Homo sapiens: one gene and its partners. The protein of the gene in region 3 purifies or fractionates together with the protein of the main gene of each other region. This does not show direct contact. Each region holds a gene or a part of one and is shown on either strand. Other genes may lie near its edges. The genes, in order: SNX14, ABCD1 and IQCF1.

Region 1 (3,750 bases), on a different chromosome or scaffold from region 3:
AAGAATATACAGGACAAATATAAAACAAACACCAAGATGTAAGGCCTAACAATAAACACATAATAAATATATCACGTGTAAATGTACTACAGATACCAATTAAAAAGCAAAGATTACTAAATTAGGTTTTTTTAAAGTGAGAGAAACTATGTGCTGCTTACTAGAAATACATTAAACATTTCAATCAGATAGAAAAAGATATACAAATGAACACTCAAATATAAAGAAAGATGATGTGGCTATATTAACATCAGACAAAGCAGACTTCAAGACTAAAAATTACCAAAGATAAAAGAGGAGCATTTTATAATGATAAAAGAATAAATTCATTAAGAAGATATAACAATCTTAAATGTGTCTGCACCTAATAATGAAGTTTAAAAGATATATGCATTCATACAATGGAATACCACTCAGCAAAGAACAAACTACATATTTATTTATTTATTTTTGAGACAGAGTCTCACTCTGTCACCCAGGCTGGAGTGCAGTGGCATGATCTCGGCTCACTGCAACCTCCACCTCTCAAGTTCAAACAATTCTCCTGCCTCAGCCTCCTGAGTAGCTGCGATTACAGGCATGAGCCAACACGCCCAGCTAATTTTTGTATTTTTGTCGAGACAGGGTTTCACTATGTTGCCCAGGTTGGTCTCGAACTCCTGACTTCAAGTGATCCACCTGCCTCGGCCTCCCGAAGTGCTGGGATTGTAAGCATGAGCCACTGCGCCTTGCCCAAACTACTTATTTAGACAAAAACATACATGAACTTTAAAAAGCATTATCCTGAGTGAAGGAAGCTAGGCACAAAGGAGTACATATTATGTGATTCAATTTATATAAAAAAAATTATACAGGCAAAACTAATCTGTGCTGAGAGAAATGAGACCAGTGATTGCTTTGGCAGGAGTAGGGGAAAGAGTGGATCTCTTGGGAAGGATCCTAAGGGAATTTTCTGGGCTGATGGAAATAAATGTTCTAGATCTTGATAAAGATGCAGGTTACGTGGATGTACACACATGCAAAACTGATCAAACTATACATTTAAATTCCATGTGTTTCACTATATAAATTATACCTCATTTTTAAAGTTATATTTTAAAAAGAAATTAAATGCATTAAAAACAATATTTTCAGTCTATAAAGTTTCTTATAAATCCAATAATCTATAATGCTACAGAGCTTATAATTAAAATGAGGTATTCTTATATTTGATAATTTAGTCAAAACAATCCTTTACAAAAACTGTGAAAAAGTGATATTGACATGGGCTACAGTTTGGGTTTTTAATATATTTTCATTATACTGTACTTTTAGTATTTTTTTTTTCTGCTACTAGGATTTGAATGAAGTTAGTGACAGATTATTTCCCAATCTGGAAAGAAGTGGGCACTTGAGAGAAACCCACATATGCTCTTAGAAAATCAAGTATATGGCCGGGCGCGGTGGCTCACGCCTGTAACCCCAGCACTTTGGGAGGCCGAGGTGGGTGGATCACCTGAGGTCGGGAATTCAAGACCAGCCTGACCAACATGGAGAAACCCCATCTCTACTAAAAATACAAAATTAGCTGGGGTGCTGGCACATGCCTGTAATCCCAGCTACTTGGGAGACTGAGGCAGGAGAATCGCTTGAACCCAGGAGGCGGAGGTTGCAGTGAGCCAAGATCACACCATTGCACTCCAGCCTGGGCAACGAGAGTGAAATTCCGCCTCAAACAAAAAAAAAAAAAAAAAAAGGAAATCGAGTATATGAAATTTAGTACAATGATAGATGGGTACCACAACATCAGATCTGATTTAAAATATTCAAATACATTAAAAGGTTTAAAAATTACTTTCGTAAAATACACAGGTAAGCCTCACCCACAGTCAAACAAAACTGCAACACGTGCACTGCGCCTTCTTGTTTCAGAAAGTTCATAAAACGAAATAAAAGATCTTGTTGCTCTCTGATTTGCTTCAATTCTAACTTCAGCACCTTGATATAAGAGAAAGATTAAGTTTAAGCTATATAAATGAGTTCTAAAATTGTTTATATCAAAAAGGTGTTATTGCTGAAAATTCTTACAGATGGCTTTTTATTTCTAGGTTCTGCAAATTTCTGCAAGAATGGAACCAAAGGAGAAGCCGGTTCAGTTGCTTTTTCAGGCTTTGAAAGAAAGAGAATTATTAACTCAGTAAAATTCCCACTTGATTTGACATACAAAATCAAAATTCAATGCAATCTGAAGTGTTTTCTAATATATTCAATACTCACTGGACTGTCATCTATGAAGATGATAAGCAAATGATTCACAGTATCCTAGTGGAAAATAATAAACATAAGTCAAAATAATTCCACTACTGTATTCTCCCCAGAATTCTCATAACTTGTATCATATTATGTAAGTTTCTAGAAAAATGAAAAAATAAATGGAGCAGTAGCAAAAAATCTGCACATATGTATTACAGCAGGAGTTTTTTTACATCTACAAAACAGGTTCTTAACCTTTGTGAAAATGGGCAAATAAAAGCTATTCTGATTTTGGCATTTAAAATATTTCTAAATCATTCTTGTTTCTTCAAAATCTCACTGGATCAAAGGTAGAAGCATCCAAAGTGTCCATCAATGGATGAACAGATAAGCAAAACATGTTATACACATACAATGAAATATTACTCAGCCTTGAAAAGGAAGGAAATTCTGACACATGCTACAACATGGATGAACCTTGAAGACACTATGCTAAGTGAAATAAGCCAGTCACAAAAAGACTAATACTTATGATTCCACTTATATGTGGTACCCAGAGTAGTCAAATTCATGGAGACAGAAAGCAGAATGGTGGTTGCCAGGGGGGGCTGGAGGGAGGAAGGAATGAGGAGTTATTGTTAACAGATGCAGAGTTTCAATTTCATAAGATGAAGAGTTCTGGAGATGGGGAATGGGGATGGTTGCACAACAATATGAATGTTTTCAGTATCACTGACTATATACATAAAAATGTTTAAGATACTAAATGTTATATTAAGTGTAATTTGTAACAATTTAAAAAAAAATCTTAAGTCTTACTGGATCAGCTAGGAAATCCAAAGAAGGAAGGAACACAGAGCCAGACAGAATCTCTCTTATAAGTAAGGTCAGAGATCTGGAAAAAGAAATAATAATAATTGTTTATATTTAGTGATTTATATTAGTTCTTAACTTTCAAGTGCATGTGAATTACGTAAGGATCTTGTTAAAATGGAGACTATAATTCAGTAGGTCTTGGTTAGGCCCTAAAAGTCTGCATTTCTAACAAACTCTCAACCAATGTTCATGCTACTGGTTTGCAGAACACACGTTGAATAGCAAAGAGTTAGAGTTCTTACTTGGCTAAAATAGAATATTACTTAAGAGAAGAAAAAGTATTCCCTTAACAGGAGGAACTTGGGGGACATTAGGAAAAACTCTCTATCGGCCGGGTGGGGTGGCTCACGCCTGTAATCTCAGAACTTTGGGTGGCCGAGGCAGGGGGATCACAAGGTCAGGAGTTCAAGACCAGCCTGGCCAACATGATGAAACCCCGTCTCTACTAAAAATACAAAAATTAGCTGGGCATGATGGTGCATGCCTGTAATCCCAGCTAATAGGGAGGCTGATGCAGGAGAATCGCTTGAATCCGGCAGGCAGAGGTTGCAGTGAGCCGAGATCACACCACTGAACTCTAGCCTGGGCAACAGAGCAAGACTCTGTCTCAAAAATAATTAAAAAAAAAAAAGAAAGAAAGAA
Region 2 (3,550 bases), on a different chromosome or scaffold from region 3:
CCGCCTCTGTGGCAGCCTGAATGCCCAGGGCCTGTGGCCGGCCAGCATGAGCCATTAGGATGGAGTTGAGCTGCGAGGAACAGAACGGGCCTCCCCGCAATAGTGGCTAAGATCATCTGTGAGTTTATCCTACTGAGCTGTTAGGTCCCAAGAGAGCCAGGCCACGGTTGCCAGGGCTGGCCCTGCTCTGTGAAGGCCCCAGGGCTCGAGGATTTTCTACCAGGTCACTCTGCTGTGTTTGGCCTCCGTTCCCAAAGTCACCTCATGATCCAGGAGGGCTGCTGCAGCCCTCACATCATGTCCCAGGCTGTAGGATGGAGGAAGTAGAAGGGAAGGGGCAAAAGGTATGTGCCTTCTTTTAAGGAAGGTTCCAGAAGCCGCCATATTGAATACTTACAGTTATATCTCATTGGCCACAACTTAGTCTCATGCTCACACCTCATCACAAGGCCACCTGGGAAGCGTAATCTCTACTCTGGGTGGCCATATGCCCTGTTGCCACTTCTAGCCCTGGGCCGCTGGGGAAGGCAGCATGGGCGAGAAGACAGGAAGGGCCGCTTCTGCCGCAGCGCCCCGACCTAATGGAGCAGCCGGCTCACCTGCTCGTTCAAGCAGCCCACTCGAGCCTTGCCAAAGTGCTGACACGGGGCAGTGACAGGAGGCCCAACCCCTGTGGGTGACAAGCCCCCGGTCTGGGGAGAGCACTCAGGCCGCTCTGGAGCTCTGTGCCAAGGAACTGTATGGGTGCCCTGGGGCTGCCATAAACCGCAGGGATGGATTGTCTCCTAGATCCAGCAGTCCGAGATCCAGGTGCCAGCAGGGTGGGCTCCTTCCGGGTGCCATGACAGAAGGATGTGTTCCAGGCCTCTGTCCTCGGCTCGCAGATGGTCCACTTCTCCCTGTATATCTTCACCTCATGTTCCCCTGTGCATGTCTTCTGCCCACACACCCCCTTTTTATGAGGACACAGTCATATTGAATTAGGGTCCACTCTGATGACCTCATCTTAGTGTGATCACCTCTGCGAAGGCCCTGTCTCCAAATAAGGTCACACTGAAGTGTTGGGGCTTGGACTCCACCGTATCTCTTCTGGGGGAAGGCACGATTCCAGTCCCCACTCCTCCATGATTAATGCCTGTCAGACAGACAAGGACGCAGAGGCACAGGGGCCCTGTCGTCACAGCTAGCTCATTCCCGCAGCTCCCCCAGCTCCCCGGCTGGCCCCCGGGTCTGGGTGCTGGTGGAACTGAGCCAAGACCATTGCCCCCGCCTAGGTTGGGAGGCTATGTGTGACTGGAAGGACGTCCTGTCGGGTGGCGAGAAGCAGAGAATCGGCATGGCCCGCATGTTCTACCACAGGTGAGCACTCCGGGCCGGCAGGCTCCCTGGGGTCCCCTGGAAGGGGAAGTAGCAGCTGTGGGGAGGCCTGGGCTCAGTGGAGCCTGAGCCGGGCTGGGGTGTTGGGCCCTGGAGGGTGCACAGACTCTCCTCTCGGCCCGGACCCCCAGGCCCAAGTACGCCCTCCTGGATGAATGCACCAGCGCCGTGAGCATCGACGTGGAAGGCAAGATCTTCCAGGCGGCCAAGGACGCGGGCATTGCCCTGCTCTCCATCACCCACCGGCCCTCCCTGTGGTAGGTGCCCTGTCTCCCTGCCTGGGGTCGGTGGGAGTGGCTGCCTGAGGGGAGGAGGTGGCCTGGCGGGCCCGGCAGCAGCAGGCGGCTGTCATCAGCAGCCCCCGTGCCGTGCCCCTGACCCTGTCCCTCTCCTGGCCAGGAAATACCACACACACTTGCTACAGTTCGATGGGGAGGGCGGCTGGAAGTTCGAGAAGCTGGACTCAGCTGCCCGCCTGAGCCTGACGGAGGAGAAGCAGCGGCTGGAGCAGCAGCTGGCGGGCATTCCCAAGATGCAGCGGCGCCTCCAGGAGCTCTGCCAGATCCTGGGCGAGGCCGTGGCCCCAGCGCATGTGCCGGCACCTAGCCCGCAAGGCCCTGGTGGCCTCCAGGGTGCCTCCACCTGACACAACCGTCCCCGGCCCCTGCCCCGCCCCCAAGCTCGGATCACATGAAGGAGACAGCAGCACCCACCCATGCACGCACCCCGCCCCTGCATGCCTGGCCCCTCCTCCTAGAAAACCCTTCCCGCCCTCGGGAAAGTAGATGTGGAGGGTGGCGCCCTGCGTAACCCTCGCCCTGTCCCTCCCACTCCCTGGGGGCGCTGTTCCACAGTGACTGGGCCCTGTCCAGGGCAGTGAGTCCTCTACTTTGCTCCGTGGAGGAAGCTGGGGTACAAGGGGCCCAGTGCTGGCCACACAGCAGCGCAGCCGAGCCCCAGGAGCCCGTCAGGCCACAGCCCCTGGCACTGCAGGTGGCCTCCCTCCAGAGACTCGAGTCCCCATGATTCCCTCCTCGTCAGTCTCTCAAAGACCCCATGGTCCATCCCCTGAGGGTGGTCAGCCAAGGCTCCCGTTCCGTGGGATGCCATAAAAGCCGCCCAGTGGGACCCACAGTCACACAGAGCGCCTCACCTGCATCCTCTCCCCCACAAGAGCCCCAAAGATCCCACGGGAGAGGGGAGAGGGACGCACAGCACTGCCTGCCAAGCGAGAATGCAGGCCCCGCCCCCTCGGCCCCTCACCACCTCTTTCTACAGCCTAATTTATTGGATTCCCTATTCGTAGCCATCTCCGTGGCCAATGTGACTACCGTGCCAGCAGCGGGGGCGGCCCAGCCTCTGAGTCCCGTGGGGCCCCGGCTCCCACCGGTGCCAAACCCAGCCCCTGCGGCCGTCACCCCGCCAGCCTACACTGCCAGCCGCCACCGGGGCACACGGGCCTCTGCTTGCCAGCCAGGAGTGCGGACACCATGTTCCCAGCTCAGTGCCAAAGAGGGGTCACCAGGGGGAGCTGTCTGCGGAGCCAGCGCCTGCCCGAGAGAGACCCCACCGCCACCGTGTGCCTTTCCCGGGCCCTCAGCCCTCGGGCCGGGCACCACCCCCAGTCCCCCCAGTAAAAGCCTCCACTGGCAAATGCAGTCCTTCCTCCCTGCCTCAGAGCCTGGTGGTGTCTGCTGTGGGTCTCGAGGAGAGATGGAGGAGAGGGAGTGGGTTGCCTGTGGGGGAAAGAGTGAGTTTGGGAAAGGAGTGGGCCTGACCCCCAAGCCCCTCCGAGGGGGAAAGTCACCAGAAGACATGGTCCAGCATGCCCTCCGCCGAGCCTCACGCCAATGCTCTTAGGATTCCTGTGACGGTGGCGGGGCGGAACCTGCAACAACATTGCACAGAAATACTGGCTGAGCCCAAATAGGACTAGGGGAGGGGATCATGCTGGTCCCTGTGGGAGGAGCACGAAGGCAAGAGAAGGGATGTCTAAGCTGCCACACAGGGTGCTGCTGGCCCTTCTAGGGAGAGGCGGCCACTTGTGCAGGGGCCTGGGGGGAACTGGGAGCACAGCGCAGGGTGTTCGTGCTGCATGCAGGGGAAGGGAGGGCAGGGGAAGGGAGGGCTGCGGCCGGCGGGCCTTGGAGGCCACACTACAGAGACAGGACTT
Region 3 (3,750 bases):
GGGAGGAAACTTAGCATTCCTTGGAGACCTGAACGGATGCAGTGAGCTTAAGAATTTTCAAGAGCTTATCAATCAGTCAGCCCTTGTTCATCCCCGAGGGGATGTGTGGTGGTATTGTGGTGGACCTTTACTGGACGCTCTGATGAATATCTGAAGTGGCACTTGTGTTTTAGTCCAATTGGCTATCCCTTTCACCCTGGCATTTCATCAACCAGAGGAAGGAAAAATAAGACATCGTAAAGTGAGAGAAGCCCCTTATGGGTCTTTTGACTCTCACATCTATTTAAATGCAATTGGAGTCTAGCAGGGAATACCAGATCAATTTAAAGCCTAAAATCAAATAGCTGCAGGATTTGAGTCAATATTTTGTTGAGAGACAATTAATAAAAATATAGATTGAATAAACTACATATGCTACAACCAACAGCGATTTATTAACTACACTAGAGATGGTGTTAAAGGAATAGCTGAGCAATTAGGGGCTACTAGCCGGATGGCTTGGGAAAATAGGATAGGCTTAGACATGATAATAGCAGAAAGAGGAGGAGTTTGCCTCATGATTAAAACTCAATGTTGTACCTTCATCCCAAACAACACTGCCCCTGATGGAAGTATAACAAAGGCATTGCAAGGTCTGACTGCCCTGTCCAATGAGTTAGCCAACAACTCAGGGTTAAATGAGCCCTTTACAGGATGGCTAGAAAAGTGGTTCAGTAAATGGAAAAGAATTATAGCCTCAATTCTCACTTCCCTGGCAGCCGCAATGGGTGTATTTATTCTTGTTGGGTGCTGTGTCACACCATGCGTCCGTGGGTTGGTGCAAAGAGGCTCATAAAAACAGCACTTACTAAAACCTCCCTTAACTATTCTCCACCTTATCCAGAGAAGCTTCTTCTTTTGGAAAATCAAGCAGAACATCTAAGCCAAGACATGTTAAAGAAGTTTAAAGAGAAAGAGCTGTAAGGAAATGCAAGAGGAGAAGTTGTTAGGTATGAGTTCTAAATTTCTCTTCAAAGAATCAGTATGTCAATATGTTCAATTCTTTGCCTTCTACTTTTAAACTTAACTTCCTTGTAAAGCAACCTTTTTCAATTACCTGCTCCGCCCTGACTCATTCTGATTACCTACTCCCCCCTGACTCATTCCGATTACCGGCTCCACCCTGACTCATTCCAATTACCTGCTCAGTCTCCACCCTGACTCATTCCGATTTCCTGCTCCGCGGTAACCATTTTTCCCACCAAACCACTCACCCCATCACTCTCTTTAAATTAGCCAATCAGAATTAGTTTAGCCTGTGTGGTCTAACCCTAGCCAATAGGGGAATGACACAGCAGCAGGGGCCACGTGCATCAGGGATAAGAACCCCTTCCCCTCCCTTGTCCAAGTGTGCACTCACCATTGCTCCATCTGTAAGGGCGCACCCTTCTATAGAAGTACCTTGCCTTGCTGAGAATTAAAAAGAAAATTTTATATTTGAGTGCTATTTCTTTTGCGGCACAGAAACTTCACTTATAACAGCACCATGCAAAAGACACTAGCTACTAGCACTAGGACATGGGATCAATGACATCCAAGTCAGGGCTCCTCCTACCTCTGCCTTTGACTCTGCTCCTAAGGACAAATGGGTTGGCATCTCCTTCTGCTGAGGCTCATCTTCTTTTGAGGGTTCCTTCGTCTTTTGGGGCTGCTTCTCCTCCTGCAATCAGCATTAGGGGAAAGGCAAGAGTGAGGCTGCGGTCCCTCCCTCTCCATTCAATATGGCACACATCCCCAGCTTCCAGGGCTTCTTAGAGTCTTCAGTGTCAGGGGGTCCCTTCACCCTGAGAGATCTATGGGGACATCCCTAACAAGCCTGGTGTGTCTGGCTTTCTCTTACCATTGGTCACATATGGATTGATTGTAGATGGTTCAAATCCCCTCACATCTGTGTTCATCCAGCCATAGCATAGGCAGGAAGGGTGGAGGAAGAAAGGCCTGTGATGTCATAAGGGCACCTGTGACTCAGGCACCAGATGGCTCCTAACAAGTGAGCCCCCTCCAAGGGAAAGACAAAAGCGCTGCCCATTCTTTTCTGCCAGAAATGGCCAAAGCCCTGACTTCAAAGGCAAGATGCCAGAAATACTGGCCCATTGCTGTAAGGTTTATAAAAAGCCAGTCATTTCTAATAACATTTAATTGAAAAAACTTGGCCAGGCGCAGTGGCTCAGGCCTGTAATCCCAGCACTTTGGGAGGCCGAGGCAGGCAGATCAACTGAGGTCAGGAGTTCGAGACCAGCCTGGCCAACATGGCAAAACCTTGTCCCTACTAAAATTACAAAAATTAGCTGGGTGTGGTGGCTGTCACCTGTAATCCCAGCTACTCAGGAGGCTGAGACAGGAGAATCGCTTGCACCCAGGAGGTGGAGTTTGCAGTGAGCCAGGATCATGCCACTGCACTCCAGGCTGGGCAAGAGAGCAAGACTCCATCTCAAAAAAAAAAAAAAAAGAAAAGAAAAAACTTATATAGCCAACTTAAATAATCAATAGGGGATTAATTTAATGATGCATAGTTCATTCATACTATAAAATACTACATAACTATTAAAAATAAGAATTTGATCTATATTACTAATGAGGAAATATATAAAGATGTATTTATAAGTAAAAAACTAAAGTTCCTTTTGATCCCACTATGCAAACAAAACTAGGAACATAATTATACACATAAAATTGAATAATTTATGCCAGAAGTTATTACATGATACACATTATATGTTGTAAATGAATATAAAGAAGAAAAAAGGTATATATACCAAACTATTACCAATGATTACCTTTGGAGAGGAGAGTTAAATTGCTGACTCATGCCTAACACAGTCCCCAAGGAACCCCATGAGGGCCTGAGGACCAGCCTGGACTCCATCTGAGGCTCAAATGGGTCCAAGTGCTCTCCTGTCTTCCTCTGTCCCTGGGGTCTCAAGGCCACAATCAGATGGATGAAGGTGGCCACTGCACAAGCATGGCCCCTTTCTGCCTGATCTCGGCCTCTGAAGACCCAGCTGGACAGGGTAAGGCCATGAGAGGCACAGCCCCTGGGGTCACTGAGAAGTGCACTTGAAATGTATAGGGTGAGTATGGGAGAGGCCAATGTGGATCTGTAGGGGGAATGTAGGGAAGAGGAGGAGGCCATTTGAGGCTGGGATGTGAAGTTAATGGGATGAGGGGGTGGAGAATATGGGAATACATTGAAAGATGTGGGAAGTTGTGGGTGTGATATAGTTTGGCTCTGTGTCCCCACCCAAATCTCATCTTGAATTTTAACTCCCGCAATTCCCATGTGTTGTGGAAGGAACCTGGTGGGAGGTGACTGAATTATGGGGGCAGGTCTTTCCTGTGCTGTTCTCATGATAGTGAATGAATCTCAAGAGATTTGATGGTTTTAAAAATGGGAGTTTGGGCTGGGTGCAGTGGCTCATGCCTGTAATCCTAGAACTTTGGGAGGCTGAGGCGGGAGGATCATGAGGTCAGGAGATCAAGACCATCCTGGCTAACACGGTGAAACCCCGTCTCTACTAAAAATACAAAAAATTAGCCAAGTGTGGTGGTTGACACCTGTAGTCCCAGTTACTGGGGAGGCTGAGGCAGCAGAATGGCATGAACCTGGGAGGCAGAGCTTGCAGTGAGCTGAGATCATGCCACTGCACTCCAGCCTGGGCGACAGAGCAAGACTCCATCTCAAAAAAAAAAAAAAAGGCAGTTTGCCTGCAC

The links.
Region 1: the proteins of IQCF1 (region 3) and SNX14 purify together in Homo sapiens (affinity purification with mass spectrometry; 2 studies listed by BioGRID and IntAct, with this or other methods). This does not show direct contact.
Region 2: the proteins of IQCF1 (region 3) and ABCD1 purify together in Homo sapiens (affinity purification with mass spectrometry; 2 studies listed by BioGRID and IntAct, with this or other methods). This does not show direct contact.

The regions. Positions count from the first base shown.
Region 1 is NC_000006.12:85,545,250-85,548,999, forward strand, and holds part of SNX14 (sorting nexin-14), read right to left. Parts: intron 3,128-3,750; coding exon 3,052-3,127; intron 2,302-3,051; coding exon 2,257-2,301; intron 2,149-2,256; coding exon 2,068-2,148; intron 1,978-2,067; coding exon 1,863-1,977; exon of another isoform or gene 1,835-1,862; intron 1-1,834. UniProt on the Homo sapiens protein: Plays a role in maintaining normal neuronal excitability and synaptic transmission. May be involved in several stages of intracellular trafficking. Required for autophagosome clearance, possibly by mediating the fusion of lysosomes with autophagosomes.
Region 2 is NC_000023.11:153,741,713-153,745,262, forward strand, and holds the end of ABCD1 (ATP-binding cassette sub-family D member 1), read left to right. Parts: intron 1-1,274; coding exon 1,275-1,359; intron 1,360-1,508; coding exon 1,509-1,634; intron 1,635-1,776; coding exon 1,777-2,023; 3' UTR 2,024-3,043; downstream 3,044-3,550. UniProt on the Homo sapiens protein: ATP-dependent transporter of the ATP-binding cassette (ABC) family involved in the transport of very long chain fatty acid (VLCFA)-CoA from the cytosol to the peroxisome lumen.
Region 3 is NC_000003.12:51,901,391-51,905,140, forward strand, and holds the start of IQCF1 (IQ domain-containing protein F1), read right to left. Parts: upstream 1,964-3,750; 5' UTR 1,883-1,963; coding exon 1,880-1,882; intron 1,700-1,879; coding exon 1,595-1,699; intron 1,435-1,594; exon of another isoform or gene 1,403-1,434; coding exon of another isoform or gene 1,400-1,402; intron 1-1,399. UniProt on the Homo sapiens protein: Involved in sperm capacitation and acrosome reaction.